Linked DNA regions of Homo sapiens: region 1 is linked to region 2. Evidence: fine-mapped expression QTL. Tissue or cell type: whole blood. Region 2 holds a variant in brackets; the other region holds the start of a gene. All regions are shown on one strand. Distances are from middle to middle.

Evidence for each region. PIP is the estimated chance that this variant, and not a neighbour inherited with it, causes the effect.
Region 1: it holds the start of PLXNA2, and the variant in region 2 is fine-mapped to the expression of PLXNA2 in whole blood (TOPMed, PIP 0.93).

What each region holds. Positions count from the first base shown.
Region 1 is chr1:208,242,368-208,247,317 of GRCh38, reverse strand. It overlaps PLXNA2 (plexin A2), which reads left to right and starts at 2,934. Exons shown (of 32, transcript NM_025179.4): 1 at 2,934-3,675. RefSeq lists a silencer at 2,817-2,876 and enhancers at 3,395-3,894, 3,895-4,396.
Region 2 is chr1:208,536,620-208,541,569 of GRCh38, reverse strand. No RefSeq gene overlaps it. Among named protein-coding and RNA genes, the nearest start is that of LINC01735, 75 kb to the left of the region's middle. The variant G/A (reference allele first, on the strand shown) is at 2,823.

The sequences.
Region 1 (4,950 bases), 290 kb after region 2:
AACATTTCCCCATTCATTCATTTGTTCATTCATTTGATAAATATTTGTTAAATATCGACAGCCTGCTCACAAATATGTTGCACTACATCTATCCTTCCAGATGGAAATGAGGACGAACTACAAGGCCCTGACAGAGGACTGGTCAGTCCCAAGGGGCTGTGGGCCTGATATCAGATGGACAGAATGAGGAAGAATATAGTGAAGGGCAGAAACATACAAGAAAACCAGAAACCTCAGAAAGAGATAGATCTGAGGTTATAGAATCTGTAGGGTTATTGCCATGCTTTCTTTAAAAATATGTGCCAAAGCAGTAATTATGGACTGTATATAGTTCCATTAAAGGAAGAAATTTAGTAAATTTGCTCTTCATAAATATTTGCGTAATAAATGAATGAATACCCAGATCAAAGGGAGAAGGTTAACGAGCAGATGTAAAGACTAGAGGTTCAGGTATACCGCTGTTGCCTCAGAGGATGTCAAATCTAAATACGAACCATGAACCCAAGGTTTTGGTTTTTTTTTAAATTCTCAGAGCATGTTATGGTAATTAGATGTTTAGCTAATAAGATCCATATTTGTTCTAGCCTATTAGGACTAAATATAACAACAATCTTTCCATTTTGATGATACTATTACTTCTTCCAACACGCTTACATATATCTATTTTAATTCCCCCAGTTGTCTGGAGAGTGAAGACAGAAATTCCCATCTTACAGATGGACAAACTGTGGCCTAGAGAAGTTAGAGGTACTTCATCCACTGTACCTCCCAGTAGATCAAGTTAGCGCTCTTTCCATTGCTATGCTGACCACAGGCTCTTCCATAGTCTCACAGGACTCAGATCTTAGACCCTGTTCAGTGGCAATGTGGAATCTGGATGGCGTCGTGCCACCCTGTCAGCCACAATGTGTCCTCCCGCCTGTGTTCCCTCTTTCTCTCCCTTTATTCAGGAAAGAGAGGGGAGGTGTGGGGATAAAAGATGGGGTGAGTGGAAGAGTCTGTTTCATTTTATGCTTCCTTGCTCTTCATTCTAAGATTTATTTCTGGACCACAGGAGTGGAGGGTGGCATATGAGAAAATTATTTCAATTGTATCATAATCTTCCCAAGGTGTGATTAAATTGAGGCATAGGGAAGAGAGGTGACCTCTTCCAGAGTCAGACACCACTTGATTTAGAACCAGAGGGCCCTAATTTTCAGCTTGGAGCTTTATCAATTAGATATCTCCAATCCTACCACGGCTGGTCTTAGGTGTAGCTGGCCAAACTCCATGAACAAATGGAGGAAGTGTTCCAAAATCTTCTAGCATCTTCTTCAAATCATCTTTTTTAATAAATTGTGGTTTAGATTCAGTCTACCCAGAGATAAAACGATCGACTAGTCTGTCTGCATGGGGAGACAAGATCTACTTATAAAAATAAATAAATAATAACACAGGGTAAATATGATAATTTATTGGTGTGTTACCAACAATGAATGCTAAAGAAGTTTGAAGGAAAGAACAGGTATGGATCAGGCAACACAGCTTAGACAGATTCTTTGTGGTCCCACAGGACAAAACTAGCAGTAGCCAGTGAAAGTTACAGGAACACAAATTTCAGCTAATTACAATGAAGAACTTTTGAAGAATTCGCTGATTTCTGCAGATGTTGGAGTAAAGCCTAGATCCCCCAGTCCTGTGTTGAATGTGCGATTGTTCGAGATGACTGGTTAGTCTAGATTTCCTTTTCTTCTTCCTCTCTCTCTCTCTTTTCTCCGGCTCCCTTTCTTCATCCTTCCCTCCCTTCGTTTCTTCTGCCGCTACTGCTCTAAGAATTTGGTGCAATTGCTTTTAGGTATTCGCAGTGATTTTTGTTGTTTTTTAGATTTATACCACTGAGGACTGTGGCCACGAGAGGGCAGTAGAGGAAGCTTATCAGAATACTTGGACAGGAGTAAACTCGTGTGCGCTCTAATCGCGAGCAGGGACTACGCAGATCCTGCGAACTCGCTGGGGTCCAGCTTGCAGGCCGCTTCCGGAAAGCCGTGTCTAGAGGCTGCGGAGTTACTGAGACTGTGTGGCGAGGAATCAGTGGCCTTGAGGGCACCGAGACATTGTCATCCAGAATCCCGAAACCTCTCACCTTAGGTTATTAAAATAAGTTATCTTATTGCCACCCCTCTGATTACCCTGCCAGAAAGATTCTCTGAATTGGATATAGAAAGCTCTTCTCCCGTCCCCAATGCCCCCATGCAAGTCGGGACTTACCAGATGCCCAGGATCCCTATCAGGGCTGGAAGTTTGAGATTCAATTCAGAGCAAGGTTCATCTTCTCATTGCAATAATAATAATAACAACAACTTCAAGCCTTATTTGACAGCTTGTTGGCCTTTTTCTTTTTTTAATTTACAAGAAGAGGAAATTTGCTCCCACAAATTCCAAGACTCTAGTCTCAACCCTACCAGACAAGCCCCGTTCCTCCCCACTCACCCCTCACTCAAATTACAGATGAAGAGGGAGGTGTGCAGGATGTGTGCGGTGACAGGTGATGCGAATGGGGGGGATTCCCTGTCCCTACTGCCCTCACCCACTCTTCCTGTGTTCTGAGCTCCCCCCTAACCCCAACGCTAGACCTTCTATTCCCCCGGGGGCCAAGCCAGCTGGGCTCGCAAGGCCCGACTCGAATTCCCGGGCCCTGGCAGCATTTTCCTTGCCCCCTTGGCTACTTAAGGTGGCCGATGGGTCCGGGCTGAGCTGGGCGCAGGACAGGCAGCCGAGCGGCCTCCGGATGCCAAACCTGCTTCTCCTTTGTTGACAGCTTGCGGAGGAGGAAGTCCGCGCGGGCGGGGGAGGGGGCAGGGTGCTGGCGGTGGCGGGCGGTGCCAGCAGCGGGCGCGGCCCCAGCCCGGGCGGACGCGGCCGGCGGGGAGGGGGTTAACGCGCGCGGCCTCTATGATAATGAGCTGCATGGTGAAATAGGGAGGCCGGCGCTCAGGGCTCCTCCGCCGCCGCCGCCGCCGCCGCCGCCGCCGCCACCGCGGGAGCCAGAGCTGCCGGGAGGAGCGGCATCCGCGCCAGACTGGAGCGGGAGGGCGGCGGAGGGCAGTTGCTGGGAATTTTTCAGCCGAGAGGGCGAGCGATCCGGAGAGAGACCCCGAGAGCTTGGGAGCGGTAGGGCGTGCGAGCGCCGCAGCCAGCGGAGCAAACCTCGAAATAGATCTGGAAAGCCAGGCTCCCGGAGGAAATGGGACTGTGAACGAACCGGAGAGCAAGAAGGGAAGGAAGCGCCGGGATTGCTGATGTCAGAGGAGCCCGGAAAGTCGCGCTGGAAAAATCTGAAGACAGCCGGGGCTCTGCTTCTTCCTCAGGAGAGACACCGCCGGCCGCCCCCACACGCCCCCTCGGCGCCTCCGGGTGCCCCCTGAGAGCCGGCGACAGCGCCCAGCCGGGCTGCTGCGGGGCGACGGAGGACTGAGGGGCGCGCGGAGCGGAGACCGAGGAGCGACTTCAGGAATACAGATAAGTGTCTGGTGGCTTGACGTGGATTTTAATGAATTTGGACTCCATGTGGATTTGGTCGTCTCCCTGATTCCGAGCTGCGGGCAGGGAGAGGGGCCTCGCGCCGCCCTCAGCAGCCGGCGGCGGCCGAGGTAGACCGAGCGGGGACGGAAGGACAGACCGACGTCGCCGAGCTGGGTAAGCGGCGGCTGGGCCGGGCGCTCGGAGTCGGCAGCGCCCTCCGCCCTCTCCCCACAGGCGCGCACACCCGTGGCGGCTTCTCCCGCGCCCGCCTCTTTGGGGTCCCGGCCCCAGAAGACCCGGCTTGGCCGCGGCGGGCGAGTCCCCGCGTGGGCTCGGCCACTTTCGCGGGCTGGAGCGCGGCGTGCGCGCGATCGCAGGCTCACTGGAGCCGCTGCCTCCCGCCGAGGGCTTCCCGGCCGGCAGCCCGCCGGCTTCCCGAATGCGGGCTGAGGGCGGCAGCAGCGCTCCGCGGCGCGCCTCCACCGCGCACCTGCCGGCGCTCTGCGGCTTTGGGGAGCTCGGGGCGGCAAGGCTGTCCTGAGAGCTGGAGCCCAAAGAGGGCCTCGGTGGCACCAGCGAGACAGCCCAAAGCCACACTGGCCAGCGATCGATTTGGGGGCGTTCACTCCAGTGCCGGGGTCCCTGGTGGCCGCCGGCTCTCCCTTCCGATCGGGGACTGGAGATCAGGGGAATGGGAAAACATCATTTGCGCGGGTTCCATAAGGCTCAGGGAGAGATTCCTAGGCACTGAATGGGTCTAAGTGTTTCATCTCCCGGGGCTCCCTTTGCGGTGTATCGCCCAGCAGGGGTCCAGCCCCTTAGTTTGAGCACCACAGGAGTGCTGGGGGTTGAAATGGGAGTTTGCTTAGGGTCCCAGAGGCTCCTTATGAACCATTTGAGAATGTTTCCTTCCATGTGCTCTTTCTTGCCCCACCCCACAAGTGAGGTAGGGATCCTAGAAAATTCTAGCCCTTTTTATCCATCCCACAGGTAGTCTCTATAATGCCAATCATGGTCTAGATGCCCAGAGAGTCACCAGAAACTACCATTTTAGATCCCCGAAAAAAGTCCACCTGTTTGGAATGACCCTTGCCCTAGTGGGAGCTACCTACTCAAACTCAGCTCTGCTCAGGAGGGATAGAAATAATGGTGGGGAGGAAGTTGGATAAAAGATTTGGGGCTCTAGGTCAGTAAGGGTCTAGAAATGAGAGCCCCATGAAGTGGGCAATGGAAATCTGAACAGGTCCCCTGTAGGAATCTTAGAGTGACAGTGGCACACCAGTAGAAAGTGCACAAGGGACATGAAGGCAGCATCAGTTTGAGGGGACTGGGACTGCCAGTCATAGCTTGAGGCAGTCACTTGGGGGCCCATCAGTTTGGAAGAACCCACAGAAATTTGGGGGCACATTCATTTCCTTCCATTCACGCGCACAGTGGACAAGGCTTATG
Region 2 (4,950 bases):
TTGTTCCCTGGACAGCTCATTTTGATTTGGATTTCATAATGCCGCTTAGAAATTCTAATGGAATTGAGCACCAGTCTCTTGTGCAGTATCCAAATCCATAACTCCTCCTTGCATTGCCTGCCCTCCTACACTGATTCACTCCTCCCCTGGCTTGGGTTCCTTCTTCTGGGATCACATGCCCAAGTAAGCTCATAGGTGTGTTTAGCAGGCCCTGCATTTAGAAGAATACAGGATAAGGTGGTATGATTGTCCTTGCTTTAAAGATTAGGAAGTAAAAGGTTAAATAAATTGTTCCAGGTCACACTGGAGTCAGAAATGGGACCCTATTCAGCTGATTCCAACAACCATGACCTTAACCACTCTTCTATGCTGCCTCATACTCAGAATTTTCCACATAGCAGTGTTTCAAGGGTGGATGGCCCTTCCTGTTGGAAACAGAGACATCCACATGCCAGCAAGGAAGATACAGCAGATTGCCAGGATGAGCAGGGTTTCAAGGGCGGCCCATCTTACTGGGACTCAGGGAAGGGTCCTAGCACTGAAGAGAGGCTCATCACTAACCAGGGACTGAAGAAGAAGTCTGAATTTGTGGCTTGGGAAATGCTGTGGGTTACTGGCAGGCTGTGCTCAGGGAGCAGGTGGTGCCAGGTCCTCACTCGGCTATCCTGGATGCCAGTCCTGTGGCAGCAGAATGAATTTCAGAGCCCCCCCTGCAGGAGGCAAGTGAAGAGTCTCACTTGGTAAGAACATAGGTATGTGTGAGGTAATTAACATCAGGGTTATTTTAAATATAGATGTAGTCAGATTGATAAGAAGCAAAGCATCATAATAGCTAAAAAATAATAACTGCTTTATCCAGCACTTATTTGTCCCAGGCACTGTGCTACGCACTTTGCATCTATTATCTTTTCAGCAACATGATGATGTAGACACAATAATTACCTAAATTTTAACTATCAGGATTAGAGTGGTTAATTCAGCAAATGTCACACTGCTAAGTAATAGAACTGGGGCTCAAACTAGGTCTGTTTGACACCAAAGCCTTTTCTTCTCAATCAGTTTTCTAGAATGCCTGAATGAAGACTCTTTTTTAGGAGGCCATGAACAGCTGTTGCAGATGTTGAGCCAGGACAGTGTGGGTAAAATTATTCTAATGCCAATATATACATTAAAATAAGTCTAAGAAGAAACCATTAGGAGGATATTTCAACGGTCCAGAAGAAGGTGACACGAAATGATATTAAGGGGGTGGCCTGTGAGTAGGAAAGATGAGATCTGACTTAAGCGAAGCTGTGAAAAAAGAATCTTTGGGGCCAGAGTACCAATTAAAATAGAGCATACGGGAAAGGATGGAGTCAGGAAGAATGCTGAAACTGATTCTGATTAAGTAATGAAGCTGCCATTAACAGAAATAGGGACACCAGCAGGAGCTAGAGGGCAACGGTCAAGTCTGTTTAGTTGACAAAGGTCTTTTGCGGAAAACATATCCCAAAGGCTGATTGAATTTTGGTTCTTGGGCTCAGAAACAGGACTAGATCTGGAGATGCAGATTTAGCAACCATCCATTAGTCCCACTGGAACCCTCCAGTGAGGCCAGCTAGATAAACCTGTCCCGGCAGCCCAGCCCACTCATGCATGGGAGCCTGGATCCCCTCACTTCTCTTGCCCACCTGCTCTTTGCTTACTCAGTCCAGAGGTCTATGTGGTTTTCACTCTGCTCTGTCACTTTCAACAAGAGATTCACACATGACCTGCCTTGCCCAGTTTGGATTCCAAGCTATTTGACAGTAGGGACTACATCTTGAACTTCTTTTTCTTTTAATGCCAAATGGTATTCTAGTAGGTTGTTAGCACAATACCCTATTGGGCTTTTCATTTTTATAAGAACAAATTCTGAAATGCAACACAGATCATCTTTCTATTTAAGTTTGGGGCCATTTGAAGCAGCAATGTATAAATTCAAAGCATTCACCTAAAGTGCCTTCATCTGCATCATTTTAACCTCAGTCTTCACAGGTCTTCCTCCACCCTCAACCCTTAAGACTTATTAATAATCAACATTCGAGTCTCCCATTCTTCTCTCTCCAATTTCTACCCTCAGGCAGTTGAGACGTAGGAGCTTTGCAATTAAATTCTCCCCTCCAGCCAAACTGACCCCAAATCATACTTATGAAATTGCTCGTTTATCGATTGTGTTGTTTTTGTTTCTCCATTTTATGTGGGCACACAGGGCCCTGCTCACAGGCAGGGTTGCTGTGCTTGGAAAGGTGATCTCCTTAGGGCACTAAAGCCGCGTTGGACAGAGAGGAGCTTAGCCTTTCCTCCTGTCAGATCTGCAGGTGGCTTTGACCACCACAGCCAGTTTATGACTGCCTGTGGGCAGTCTCGGCCCTCAGCTAATGTGTAGAACAGGCAAGGCAAATCTGCGAAATCCTCCCACCCACTTGCCCTGTCAGCACCATTCCTGCTGACCAGTGCCTTCCTTGCTGTGGCCGAACCCTCAGGACAGTGCCCCACCAGCTCTGTCTTTGTCAACCGCTCAGTACAATGTGGATGTGTGGAGTGGCTACTTACGAGTTAGGCCCTGGGTGAATTGTGCAGTATTCCACAATGAACACAGCACAGTTCTCTCTTCTCAAGAAGAACCAGGTTTAATAGGAGAGGCAAATACACAAACAGGAAACTACAGTACAGTGTGGCAAGTGCAATATTAAAGAGAAGTTAATGAGAACAACAGACAATGGGTGCGTAACCTGCGCAAACAGGAAACTACAGTACAGTGTGGCAAGAGCAATATTAAAGAGAAGTTAATGAGAACAACA[G/A]ACAATGGGTGTGTAACCTGCGGGGAAGGCAGAAAGGGCTCTCAGGTGCAGAGCTGACATCCGTTAGCCATGACATCCGTCAGGCCACAGAGCCTGTGGCCCACAAAAATGCTTTAATTTTAATTTCTTTTAAAACAAGAATAGATGATTATAATAATAACGGCTAGTAACAATGAATTCAGCCTACATTATACGCATCTTCATGCCAGTGCTGTTATCAAATAGAATTTTACATTTTTTTTTTTTTTGGAAGAAGAGCCCACAAAGGCCAAATTGCTTAGGACCAGCAAAAGTGGTACTGTGACCCTGCCTCACGAAGAAACTAGGGCAGAGTAGAAGATACACAGGCAAAGTAGGAGAGGTCTAGGCGAGGGACCAGTGTAAGCGTGTGTCAAGAATATCAGCATGATGCTAGGGAACAAGCCGGATATGGGGAGTCGTGAGAAACTAGGTAAAGATGTAGGCAGAGATTTGCTATATTAAGAACCTGGAATTAGTCCTACAAGCCTGTTCCCTTCCATACTCCCACGTACCCCACAACACGAAATCAAAGTTTGCTAATCCTGTGCCCCATTCTCTCCCAGCTAATATTTTCCTTAGAACATAATCTGGGTAACTGCAATGTGCCAAATGTCACTGCCCACAAGCAGCTTTCTATGCCACCTCCCATCTACTGACAGCAATGTCTTAAATAAGGAAATATGTTTCCAATGGCAGGTGAGGAAGGGGATTTAGGAGCAGGAATGCTCTGGGCTTTCCACTGGACTCCTCTGCCTGCATCAGGGCATCTGAGAGGCTGGGACCTCTCAGAAAGGCTGGTGACAGGCCATTGGCGGTCTTTCTCTTTCTGGTTACAAAGTGCCCAGAGGTCTGCTCACTCAACAACTATTTTTGAAGCATGAAGTGAAAACAGGATGAAAGAACAGGAAAAAGTGTCCATTATGCAAGAAGAGAAGAGCCTCCCCCCAACCTCCTAATGTGTATGTCATTTAAATACCCTTGTGAGAGGTGTTCATTATTTCCCCCATTATTTAGAAATGTGCTTCAAAGACCCCTCCAACAGCGTCGTGCCATCAGTTGTTTAAACACACGATTTGTTAAATCACTACCCTCGGAGCCCTGGAGCTTAGGGGTTATATTGTCTCAGAGCAGACACAACTCGGGGGTCACCCTGCTGCTGCTGAGGATTGTCTCAGCAACTCCCCACCGCATCCTGATGGTTAATAAGGATCAGCTTTTGAAAGGCAAGGTCAAAAGGAGAACTAAGTGACTCCTGGTGCTGGCTGAGGGTGCATGAGTTCATTGTTCCCAGCGGCTGGTCAGTGCCCAGTGAGGAGAGAGCCCATTGTTGCCAAGCAGCCTGAGAGACAAAGCCCAGCCCAGCCATCAACCTATGCTGGGGGCTAGATGGGGGTTTCCAGAAGGAGCCAGTCCTTGACTTTAGAAATAATTCTCTTTAGGATAACTTGTTTTCATGAAAATGGGAAGCTACAAAAAGATGCATTAAGTGTTGATCATGTACATTATCAAAGAACACCTTTAAGCATCTGTTCCCCTGAGTACACGAAAGTGTTTATTTACAGGTCTTTAAACTGTAGGATAGAAATGCTCATAGCAAGCCACTGATTATAGAAAATCAAACTGAGATGCATTCATTGATTTGAGAGGAAAATAAGAATAATGGGGAGAAAGGTTTCAAACTTTAAAAAAATCAATTTATGTAAATTGATCAAAGAAGATCTCCGCTGCATAAAGAGAAATATGTCTCCCCTTTCTCCTGTTTTTGGCATAGCAACTGTCAGCTCTTATCTGCTCACTGCCTTTTGTGTCCCCACACACCAGTCTACAGACCTTGTCTCTGCATGGCTACTTCACTAAAAATGCAAAATTCCCCTGGGAACCAAAGGTGAACCCACAGAAAAGTAGATAAAGACCTTGAGGGAGCAAGTCACTTAATACCTCCCTTCATGCATTTGCGGAAGGGCTTGGCAATCTATAGGTGGTAGCTATTGTGTTGTTGGGAGGAGAATTTCTACCACCACTGAGTGCGGAGGCAGACCTCAAATGATTCCCCTTCTCAAAATTTCTTTATGCAGTTAATGGCACTGCAGATCCACAGTAAGCAGGC